Regions from separate parts of the Homo sapiens genome. Here region 2 is linked to region 1. A link means that fine-mapping ties the variant in region 1 to the expression of a gene that starts in the linked region. Tissue or cell type: whole blood. Region 1 holds a variant in brackets; the other region holds the start of a gene. All regions are shown on one strand. Distances are from middle to middle.

Region 1 (5,000 bases):
CTCCCTGGGCAGAAAGCAGGGGCAGGAGGCTCAAAGCTTCATCCTTACTCAGCAGCATTTGGTTTCCAAGATTTCTGTGTAGGGAACGGGTTCAGAACCCTCTAAGTGAGGCACGGAGGACTCCCTCCCAGTTGGGAGGACCTAGGAGCCAGGGCTGGGGGATGGGAACAGGAGGCAAAGGCCAAGCTTGACCTCCAGGGGCCTTGCTGAGCCAGTCTCCTCATCTGTCTCCCAGGTTCAGGGGAGCAGAGGCAAGCGGGGAGAGGAGGTGGCTCAGGATAAGGCACCCCAACAGAGAAGGGCAGGGAGAGTAATGGAGAGAGGAATCATGAAGCAAGACACAGTCCCACTCTGGGAAGGAGGTGGAAGGAGACAGGCAGAGAGGTAGAGACAGAGAAGGAGGGGCTGGGAGACCTGGAGGCCTGAGAGACCCTCACTCCCTAACACACACACACACACACACACACACACACACACACACACACACACACGGAGAAGATGCCTGGGGACTTGGGCCCACATTCACACCGACCGACTACAGACATCTGTGGGTGAGACAGACGGCAGGACTCAGCTTTCAGTGTCGCCTTCCCTGTGGAGCAGCCGAAGTGCCCCGCTCAGAAGCGGTTTCTGGCCCATTGGCCAAGCACCTCCCCTGAGTGGAGCCCAGGAGAAGACCAGAAGCAGGAACTGAGGCTGGGGCGGCAGAGCCGAGGCAGGGAGGGGCCCCTGCCAGCCTCCCAGTGCCAGAAACGGCCCTGGCCCAGGAAGGACAACTTCCCGAGCTCCAGCCCTCCTCAGTATCCTGGGCAAAGAGGGCAGAGTGCAGGGCAGGTGGGGAGCTGGGCGTGGCGGCAGAAGGAGCACGGCACAGTGTGTCCCCAGTGGGCATGGCCTGGGTCTCGGGCCGATCCTGTGGCTTCCCCTCAGGCTGGGTTCCTACAGGTTTCTATGTGTCCCGGGAGCCAGGGCACAGGGTCGGGAGGCTTCTCTCCGGAACATGGGCCTCTTGCCGCCGGGCTACTTTGAGTCTTGGAGCTCCTTGGCTTTCTGCAGGATCTGGCAGACATCTGTGATGGGGTAGTCCTGGGCACAGGAAAAGGCCAACAGTTGCCTCTGAAGCCACTTCACCCCTGCCACACCCACACCCTCCCTGCTGGGACCCGTTGCCATGCTGGATCCTGGGCCTCAGGGGCAGGAGCACAGAACACCAGGCATCCCACACTCCCCAACCCCCAGACCCCTGCATGCAGCTGACGCTACACCATGCAGCACCAACTCAACGATCCAAACACAACCACTCCCAGGCTCTTGCGGCCCTTTCCTCAGGACCAGACCGTGCTGCCTCAGCTCTCCCACTACTGCCACTGAACCCGAGCTCCCTCGTGTGGAGCCAGTAGGACTGGGCCAGTGTCTGAGCATCAGCGCGAAGTCCCAACAGCCCTGTGAGTGGCCACTGTGATTCTGCACTTTTTCCAGATCTGGTCCATGAAGTTAGGGAAAAGCAACTCTAGGCTGGGCTTGGTGGCTCACACCTGTAATCTCAGCACTTTGGGAGGCTGAGGTGGGCGGATCACCTGAGGTCAGGAGTTCGAGACCAGCCTGACCAAGATGGTGAAACCCTGTCTCTACTAAAGGTACAAAAATTAGCCAGACGTGGTGGCACACACCTGTAATCCCAGCTACTCGGGAGGCTAAGGCAGGAGAATCACTTGAACCTGGGAGGTGGAGGTTGCAGTGAACCGAGATTGCACCACTGCACTCCAGCCTGGACAACAGAGCGAGACTCTGTCTCAAAAAAAAAAAAACAACAACAAAGCAACACTAAGGCCACGTGCTGGTGAAGAAGCTGAGACCCAGAGATGCTGTAACTTGGCTTGGGTCACATGATGAGCACAGCAGAGCAAAACTGTGGACCTAAAGCTGTAGGCCCTTGAGCCCATGTTCTTTTTTTCTGAGACAGAGTCTTGCTCTGTCCCCCAGGCTGGAGTGCAGTGATGCGATCTTGGCTCACTGCAACCTCCACCTCCCAAGTTAAAGTGATTCTCCTACCTCAGCCTCCCAAGCAGCTGGGAATTACAGGTGCATGCCACCAAGCCCGGCTAATTTTTGTATTTTTAGTAGAGACGGGGTTTCGCCATGTTGGCCAGGCTGGTCTTGAACTCCAGACCTCAGGTGGTCCACCCACCCCAGCCTCCCAAAGTGCTGGGATTATAGGCATGAGCCACCGCGCCCGGTGAGCCCATGTTCTTAATCACTACACCCCACCCTCCTTCCCCGGGCCTGAGCATGGCCACCAGCAAGCACGGCCATGTTCTGGGCACCTGCTGTGTCCTAGGTGTGAACACCTACGTAGAGTACACGGTTTGAAGGCCAAGTCACTTGCTCAAGGCCACCCAACATTCCAGGTCAGTGGCAGAACCAGGATTCAAACCCAGATCCAAACCAGATCTGCTCAGGGGTCTGGACTTTAATCCCTACTACACTCCGCTGCCCCTGCCCAGCCTGTCGCAGCAGCTGGCGTGGGCAGGTGCCTGGCGAGTGCCAGCCTCATGGCAGTGGCTGAGCCTGCCCCCAACTCCCATTACCTGCAGCAGCCGCATATTCACAGTGAAGTCCCCTTCCAGCAACTGCTCCCGGATCAGCCTATGAAAAGCAGCAGCAAAAGCGCTGGGACCTGGGATGCTCTGAGTGCAGGCCCTGCCCACTCCTCCCTCCCTACCCACCTCAAGTTTGGTTTGTCGCCCTCCCAAGGACTCCAGAATCCCACTCCAGCCATGAAAGAGCAGCCCTGCCCACCCTTCGGGGCGGAGGG[T/C]CCTCCTGTCTGGCTTCTCCAAGGACTGCCCAGGTGAGCTGATGACAGCTCATGCCCGCACTCACATGAGCATGGCGCAGCAGACGAGGAGGAGGAAGTCAAAGCGGTTGTCATCGGCGAAGAGGGAGTCCCAGATGCGGATGACGTCAGGCAGCAAGAACTCCTGGGACAGCAGCAGTGTCAGCCAGCGGAAGGCAAAGAACTGAGGCTTGATGTTCTGCTCTTGCTGGGGAGACAGCGTGGGGGGTGGGGGGCATGACTCTGTGTTGGCTGCCGGCCATGGAGCACCACGCAGTGGGTCAGAAGTGAATTCAGAACAGCAGGGCCCAGCATGCCAGGTGTGAGCACCAGGGCTGGCACCAGGCTGCCGGACAGCCTTGCCTGGTAAAGGGGCGGAGCCTGTTTGCTGCCAGCCAACATCCTCAGATCTTCCTATTTTTTAAAGAGAAGCTGGAAACCCAAACCTTTATATAATAAGCTCTCCAGATTTATAAATGATGGCTCAAACTCTTTTCACACACTTTGCAGATGATAGCCTTGGGTTTGTGGATGTGCTGAGTGACCATCACAGGGCACTTACTAAAAGCCTGGGCTATGCTTAGAATATTAAATATGTCCTCTCACTCATTTAATCCACAGAACAATTCCACAGGCAATTATTCCCAGTAGAGACAAGCCTTCTGGTCAGCCACAGTGAATATTAACTGAAAAAGCATGCTACAAAACAGCAAAAGCATACTTCCTTTTTTTTTTAGAGATGAGGTCTCGCTATATTGCCTAGGCTGAAGTGCAGTGGCACAATCATGGATGGCTCACTGCAGCCTTGACCTCGAGGGCTCCTCTCTCAGCCTCCCGAGTAGCTGAGACTACAGGCCTGTGCCACCATGCCTGGCTAATTTGTTTTTAAATTTTTTGTAGAGACAAAGCTTCACTATGTTGCTCAACCTCTGGGCTCAAGCGATCCTCCCGCCTCAGTCTCCCAAAGTGCTAGGATTACAACTGTGAGCCATCACACTCAACCCATATTTGTTTAAAAAGATATCATTATTCCTGGCCAGCCAGGCACAGTGGCTCATGCCTGTAATCCCAGCACTTTGGGAGAGGGAGGTAGGCGGATCACTTGAGGTCAGGAGTTCGAGACCAGCCTGGCCAACACAGCGAAATCCCATCTCTACTAAAAATACAAAAACTAGCCAGGCGTGGTAACGCACGCCTGTAATCCCAGCTACTGGGGAGGCTGAGGCATGAGAATTGCTTGAACCTGGGAGGCGGAGGTTGCAGTGAGCTGAGATTGCACCACTGCACTCCAACCTGGCCTCTGAGAGAGAGAGTCCTTCTCAAAAAAAAAAAAAAAAAAAAAAAAACAGAAAAAAAAGGGCTGGGCACGGTGGCTCATGCCTGTAATCCCAGCACTTTGGGAGGCCGAGGCGGGTGGATTACGAGGTCAGGAGATCATCAAGACCATCCTGGCTAACACAGTGAAACTCCATCTCTACTAAAAATACAAAAAATTAGCCGGGCACAGTGGCGGGTGCCTGTAGTCCCAGCTGCTTGGGAGGCTGAGGCAGGAGAATGGCATGAACCTGGGAGGTGGAGCTTGCAGTGAGCCGAGATTGTGCCACTGCACTCCAGTCTGGGCGACAGAGCGAGACTCCATCTCAAAAAAAAAAAAAAAATGAAGTTAACACTTACCTCAGAAGACTACTAACAGCTTAACCAATTTAGTTCATAGTAAATGCCCTGCAGTATGCCTGGCACACAATGGGCACCATTCTCAACTTTCCCCTTCCCTCCCAGCTGGGCTCCACCATCAGCTGCCTCAGCACATGGGTCAGCGTCCCGGGCAGCAGCAGCAGCAGCTACTTCTGACCCCCAGACTCAAGCGAGACCTCGCCCTGGGCTGGGATGGCACAGCAACTCTCTGCCTCCTGTCCCTTTCCACCCGTCTGTTCCTGGGGTCCTCACCAGTTTCAGGTAGAGCTCCACATCCTTATCTTTCAAGGTGGAGTAAACCTTCTCCATCTTGTAGGTGATGCCACACTGCGAGTCATCCAGGCTCTTGATAAAGTTGTCCCGGATCTCGGCCATGAGGTTGGTGAAGCAGAAAAAGGTGTCTGCCTCGGCGTGCTCTGGGAGAGAGCAGGATGGGGGCAGAAGTGGCGCACTCCAGGCCCACCCCACCTCT
Region 2 (5,000 bases), 100 kb after region 1:
CTCCTCACTCACCAGCTGGGCCAGGCCCAGGGCCGGGCAGCAGGATTCGGGCGTGCAGCTCCCGCAGCTCGCCATGCAGCTGCTCCAGGCGGCGGTTGGAGGACCGCAGCAGCTGCTGCACATGGCCCAAGTGGCGGCGGTCTGTGGCCACGCGCCGCAGGTTCTCCACCCCCTCCTTGATCTTCAGCTCTTTCTGGATGGCCCGGCGGATCACCTCCTTCTCATCCTCTGGGGGCCACTGGCTCGGCCCAGGCTGCAGAGCCGGTGGAAAGCAGAGGGTGGAGAACAGCCATGGGGTGCAGCGGCCACCAGCAGCCTTTGCTCACTGCAGATGGAGGCGAAGGAAGGGACGGCACCCAGGACTGACTCGCACAGGGTTTTGGAAGCCTCTCTCCCCTTAGAGCTCAGGCCTGAGCCAGATGGAAACTCCGAGGCCACTCATCTAGGCCAGGCTCCTGTCCTCCGCCCGTTAGAGAAGGATGTGGCGGGGGGGACAGTTCACACGGTAAATGGGTGCCAGGTTCTATTCTAAGTGCTTTGCATATATTACCACATCACTCCTCCCAGCCACCCCACCCGGTAGCGGTGGTCATTACCCCCATTTTCTTTTTTCTTTTTCTTTTTCTTTTTTTTTTTTTTGAGACAGTTTTGCTCTTGTTGCCCAGGCTGGAGTGCCATGGCACGATCTCGGTTCACCACAACCTCTGCCTCCCGGGTTCAAGCGATTCTCCTGCCCCAGCCTCCTGAGTAGCTGGGATTACAGGCACACGCCACTAAGCCCGGCTAATTTTGTATTTTTAGTAGGGACGGGGTTTCTCCATGTTCGTCAGGCTGGTCTTGAATCCTGACCTCAGGTGATCCACCTGCCTTGGCCTCCCAAAGTGCTGGGATTACAGGTGTGAGCCACCACGCCTGTACTATTACCCCTATTTTCTAGTGAGGAAACTGAGGCCCAGAGAGGTGAAGTAACTTGCCCACAGTCAAGACACAGAGGAGGGGCCACCATCTCTCGGGCCCCAGCTGTCCCTGGCAGCCCTGGGTAATCAGGCTGCTCTCTCTACATCTGGGACCCAAAGTAGAGTCCAGGAGCCACAAAAGCTACGCCGAATAGGGGTTCACACGAAGCCACATGAGAAGGCAGCCAGGGGCCTGGGAGCCAGGGCTTGTTCCCCTGATGTCCCAATGCCACAGGTAGCAAAGCAGAGGCACAGAGAGGAACTGGGGAGGTCTCCGGGTGCCCACTCCCTGCTCAGCTCCCGGGAGGAAGTAGAAGGCTCTCTCACGGCTTCACCCAGGTTGGAGCCAGGAACAGGAACACCTCCTTTCCAGCCGCCAGCATTTCAAACCAACCGGTGCCAAAGGTGACCTCAGGCCGGGTAACCCATGATGCCCCGCAACACGGGCTGTTGCAGGAACCCCATCTTACCTCTCTGTGTTCCATCTTCTCCTGAGCCCAGTGGAAGGGGCCGCAACCCCAGACTCAGGGACCCCCCCACCCCAGACCTCAGCGGGGCCTGCTGGCCCAGCTGTCAGAGGGCAAGGGCGAGGCTCAGGAAATCCTCTGACCGCCCTAGGCCACAGGGCCAGAGCCAAAGACCGGAGCAAACAAAGGTCCCATGGAGCTGGGGGCCCGGCCACCGGGGTCCTGAGTCACCCAGCTGCCGCTGCAGGGCGGAGCCCCGCAGGAAATCGGAAAATGTGTACAAGCTACGTCTGGAACAGGCGGAGGGACCTCCAGAGGAAGGGGGTGGGAGGGGGCAGACCGAGCCCCAGCCCTGAAGGCGGCCTAAACGACTGGCTTGGGCGCTCAAGGAGTCTACACGCACCCCGCAACACCCCCATGGTCCCGTCTGCCCTGGGTTGGAACTCCAACATGGACACACACACCACCTCCTTTCCGCTCTTTGCGGGGACCCACTCCTGTCCGCAAATGCCCCCCTCCCAACCACTCGCTCCGGAACAGGACACCACCTCTCCCTCCTCAGGAGCAGATAGACATGGCCTCGGTCCTCCGGGCCCACGCGCACCTACTGCCAGCTCTGGCAGGAAACCCAGCCCCCTCCGCATTCTAGAACCCGCTATGTACCCAAAGGTTCCCGCCCTGGGGCGGGGGAGGCCGCTCCCCTCTCATCTACGCTCCCCTCGTGCCTCCTGTGCTCCGGGAAGGACTCCTGCCACTGCCAAGCGCGCACAGACTGCGCCCCCCGCTGCGCGCACATTCTAACCCCCCCAGGCCCCTGTGCCCCGCCTTTCTATCCCGGCTAATTCCCGTCGGCCTTGGAGCCCCACCGAGGAGAACCGACTTAAGGACACTCTGGGGACCACCCTGGTGGCGCACACTGCGGACTCAGCCGTCCTCGCTCACGGGCTGGTTGGGGTTCAGTCTCCGGGTCAGCCGCGGACTGATTTGGAGACTGTGCAAGGTCCAGGAACCACCGAACCCGGAGATCAGGTCTGCTCTGCGAGGGCGTCGCGGGGCCGGGGCCAGGGCAGGGGCAGGGAAGGGGCGCGGGTGAGGGGAGGATCGGGGGAAGCGGCCGCGGTTCGGGGCTCCGGGGCGATGACAGAGGCTTTCTCGCACCCCCCGGGCCCGCGCGCCCCTCCCACGCCGTTCACCTGCCGCGGCGCCCCCTCCTCCATGGCGCCGCTCCGGCCGCTTGGGGCCCTTCTCTCAGCCACTCCGGTCCCGGAAGCCGCAGACCCTCCGCCAGGACTTTCAAACTTGAAACTTCCCGGGAAGCGGCGCCGGAGACGCGGGATCGGGCGCCCCCTCCCGAGACCCGCTGGCCCGCGGGACCAGCGCCGCCTCCCGTCCGCGCCGATCCAGCGCCCGGGACCCCACGCCCGAGGTCCCGCGCCCCAGCGCCTCCCTCGGATCCAAAATTCCGCGGGATTCTGGGCCCAGTACCCGGGCTTCGGCGCCTGCGGTTCCCGCTGGGCGTGACCGCGCCTCACCCCCGGTTTGGACGCTCAGGAGGCACATCGCCCGCGCCCAGGTCCTCTGGCCTTCCCCGCCGCGCGCCCGCGGGAGCCGGCCAGTTAGGGACAGGGATGGGGGAAACAGCGCCCCCTGAAGGTTGCCGGGTCGCCCAGCCGGGTGCAGCCGGTGGAGCTGGCCGCCTCCTCTAACTTTGAGCCCCTCTACAACCTGGCTCCCGCCTCTAACGCGCTGGGCCTCCTCGACCAAGCCCCTCAAGTCTCTCTTTGTCTCGCACGTTGTTGGTGTAATGTGGGCTAATCCAAAATTGTCTCTCTCCTCGGAGTGGTTGGCCCAGACTAGATATTAGTCACTACAAGAATGTATACTAGGCCAGGTGCGGTGGCTCACGCCTGTAATCCCAGCAGTTTGGGAGGCAGAGGTGGACGGATCACGAGGTCAGGAGTTCGAGACCAGCCTGGCCAACATGGTGAAACCCCCGTCTCTACTAAAAATACAAAAATTAGCCGGTCGTGGTGGCGGGCGCCTGTAATCCCAGCTACTCAGGAGGCTGAGGTGGGAGAATCACTTGTACCCAGTAGGCGGAGGTTGCAGTGAGCCGAGATCCTGCCACTGCCCTCCAACCTGGGTGACAGAGCGAGACTCCATCTCAAAAAAAAAAAAAAAAAAAAAAAAAGAACGTATACTTGTGGAAAAGTAAATCCTCACCCAAAATTATGATAAATTACAAATTACAGATGAATGAACCAGACCTCTCTCCGGCCCATCTCTTACTCAGACTGAGCTTGCTGGTTCAGCCCGTGCCACTTTTTAGGGCTTTACCCTAAAAAGCCCATCCATCCACACGGGAGAAAAGCCATTTACACCTGGTGAAATAGCCGCCACTATTTCAGCCCAAGGGAGGTGTGCTGGTCACTGCCTAGTCTATGGCGGGCCATTCAGCCCGTCCTGGCATCCTGCGTTTACAGGAGGTTGTGTCAGCACTTCGTGGAGGAGCGTCCTCCAGGAGGTGGGAAGGTGATGAAGGGTCAAATACCGACAGTGACTTGGAACAGACAGGCTCTGGTGCTCTTACTGAATGAAGGAAGCCACATGTTGTGCTTTGCACTAATCACTTCCTTCATAATGGACTGGAAAAAAGTGAAATTGGTGAGCCATGGACAACACTGGGTTGTCCTGCTATGGGAAATCACCCAAGTGGCATTGACATATAAGCAAAGGCAACTTGGCTCTGTGAAACATGCCCAGATTTCATAATCAGAGGCGAAATGTGACATTTACACATTAGAGTTGTTGAGGTCTAGACATTAGCAGAAGCACCTGGCACATAGTAGGTTCTTTGACATGGGGGTTGGCTGGGCATGGTGGCTCATGCCTGTAATCCCAGCACTTTGGGAGGCTGAGGAGGGCAGATCACTTAAGGTCAGGAGTTCAAGACCAGCCTGGCCAACATGGTGAAATCCCGTCTCTGCTAAAAAAAAATTAAAAAGGCAGCTGGGCGCGGTGGCTCACGCCTGTAATCCTAGCACTTTGGGAGGCCGAGGCAGGCGGATCACAAGGTCAGGAGTTCGAGACCAGCCTGGCCAACATGGTGAAACCCCGTCTCTACTAAAACTACAAAAAAAAAATATTAGCTGGGCATGGTGGTGGGTGCCTGTAATCCCAGCTACTAGGGAGGCTGAGGCTGGAGAATCACTTGAACCTGGGAAGTGGAGGTTGCAGTAAGCCAATCTCGCCACTACACTCCAGCCTAGATGACAAGAGCAAAACTGCATCTCAAAAAAATACATAAAATAAAAAATTAGAAAAACTAGCTGGGCGTGGTAGCGCACGCCTGTAGTCCCAGCTACTCGGGAGGCTGAGGCAGGCAAATCACCTGAATCTGGGAGGCAGAGGTTGCAGCGAGCTAAGATCACGCCACTACACTCCAGCCTGGGCAACAGAGCAAGATTCTGTCTCAAGAAAAATAAATAAATAAAAATAAAATAAAATGGAGGTTAAATGAACGTTATTATCCATCATTTAGAAGCAAAAAGGCTGACCAAGCCCAGTGGCTCATGCC

Evidence for each region. PIP is the estimated chance that this variant, and not a neighbour inherited with it, causes the effect.
Region 2: PKN3 starts here. The variant in region 1 is fine-mapped to the expression of PKN3 in whole blood (GTEx, PIP 0.90).

What each region holds. Positions count from the first base shown.
Region 1 is chr9:128,803,900-128,808,899 of GRCh38, reverse strand. TBC1D13 (TBC1 domain family member 13) reads right to left here. Exons shown (of 12, transcript NM_018201.5): 9 at 4,781-4,944; 10 at 2,881-3,041; 11 at 2,589-2,646; 12 at 1-1,086. The coding sequence ends at 1,021. Among named protein-coding and RNA genes, the nearest start is that of ENDOG, 12 kb to the left of the region's middle. The variant T/C (reference allele first, on the strand shown) is at 2,816.
Region 2 is chr9:128,700,556-128,705,555 of GRCh38, reverse strand. PKN3 (protein kinase N3) reads right to left here and starts at 3,053. Exons shown (of 22, transcript NM_013355.5): 1 at 2,617-3,053; 2 at 13-253. The coding sequence starts at 2,640. RefSeq lists an enhancer at 2,237-2,776 and a silencer at 2,591-3,160.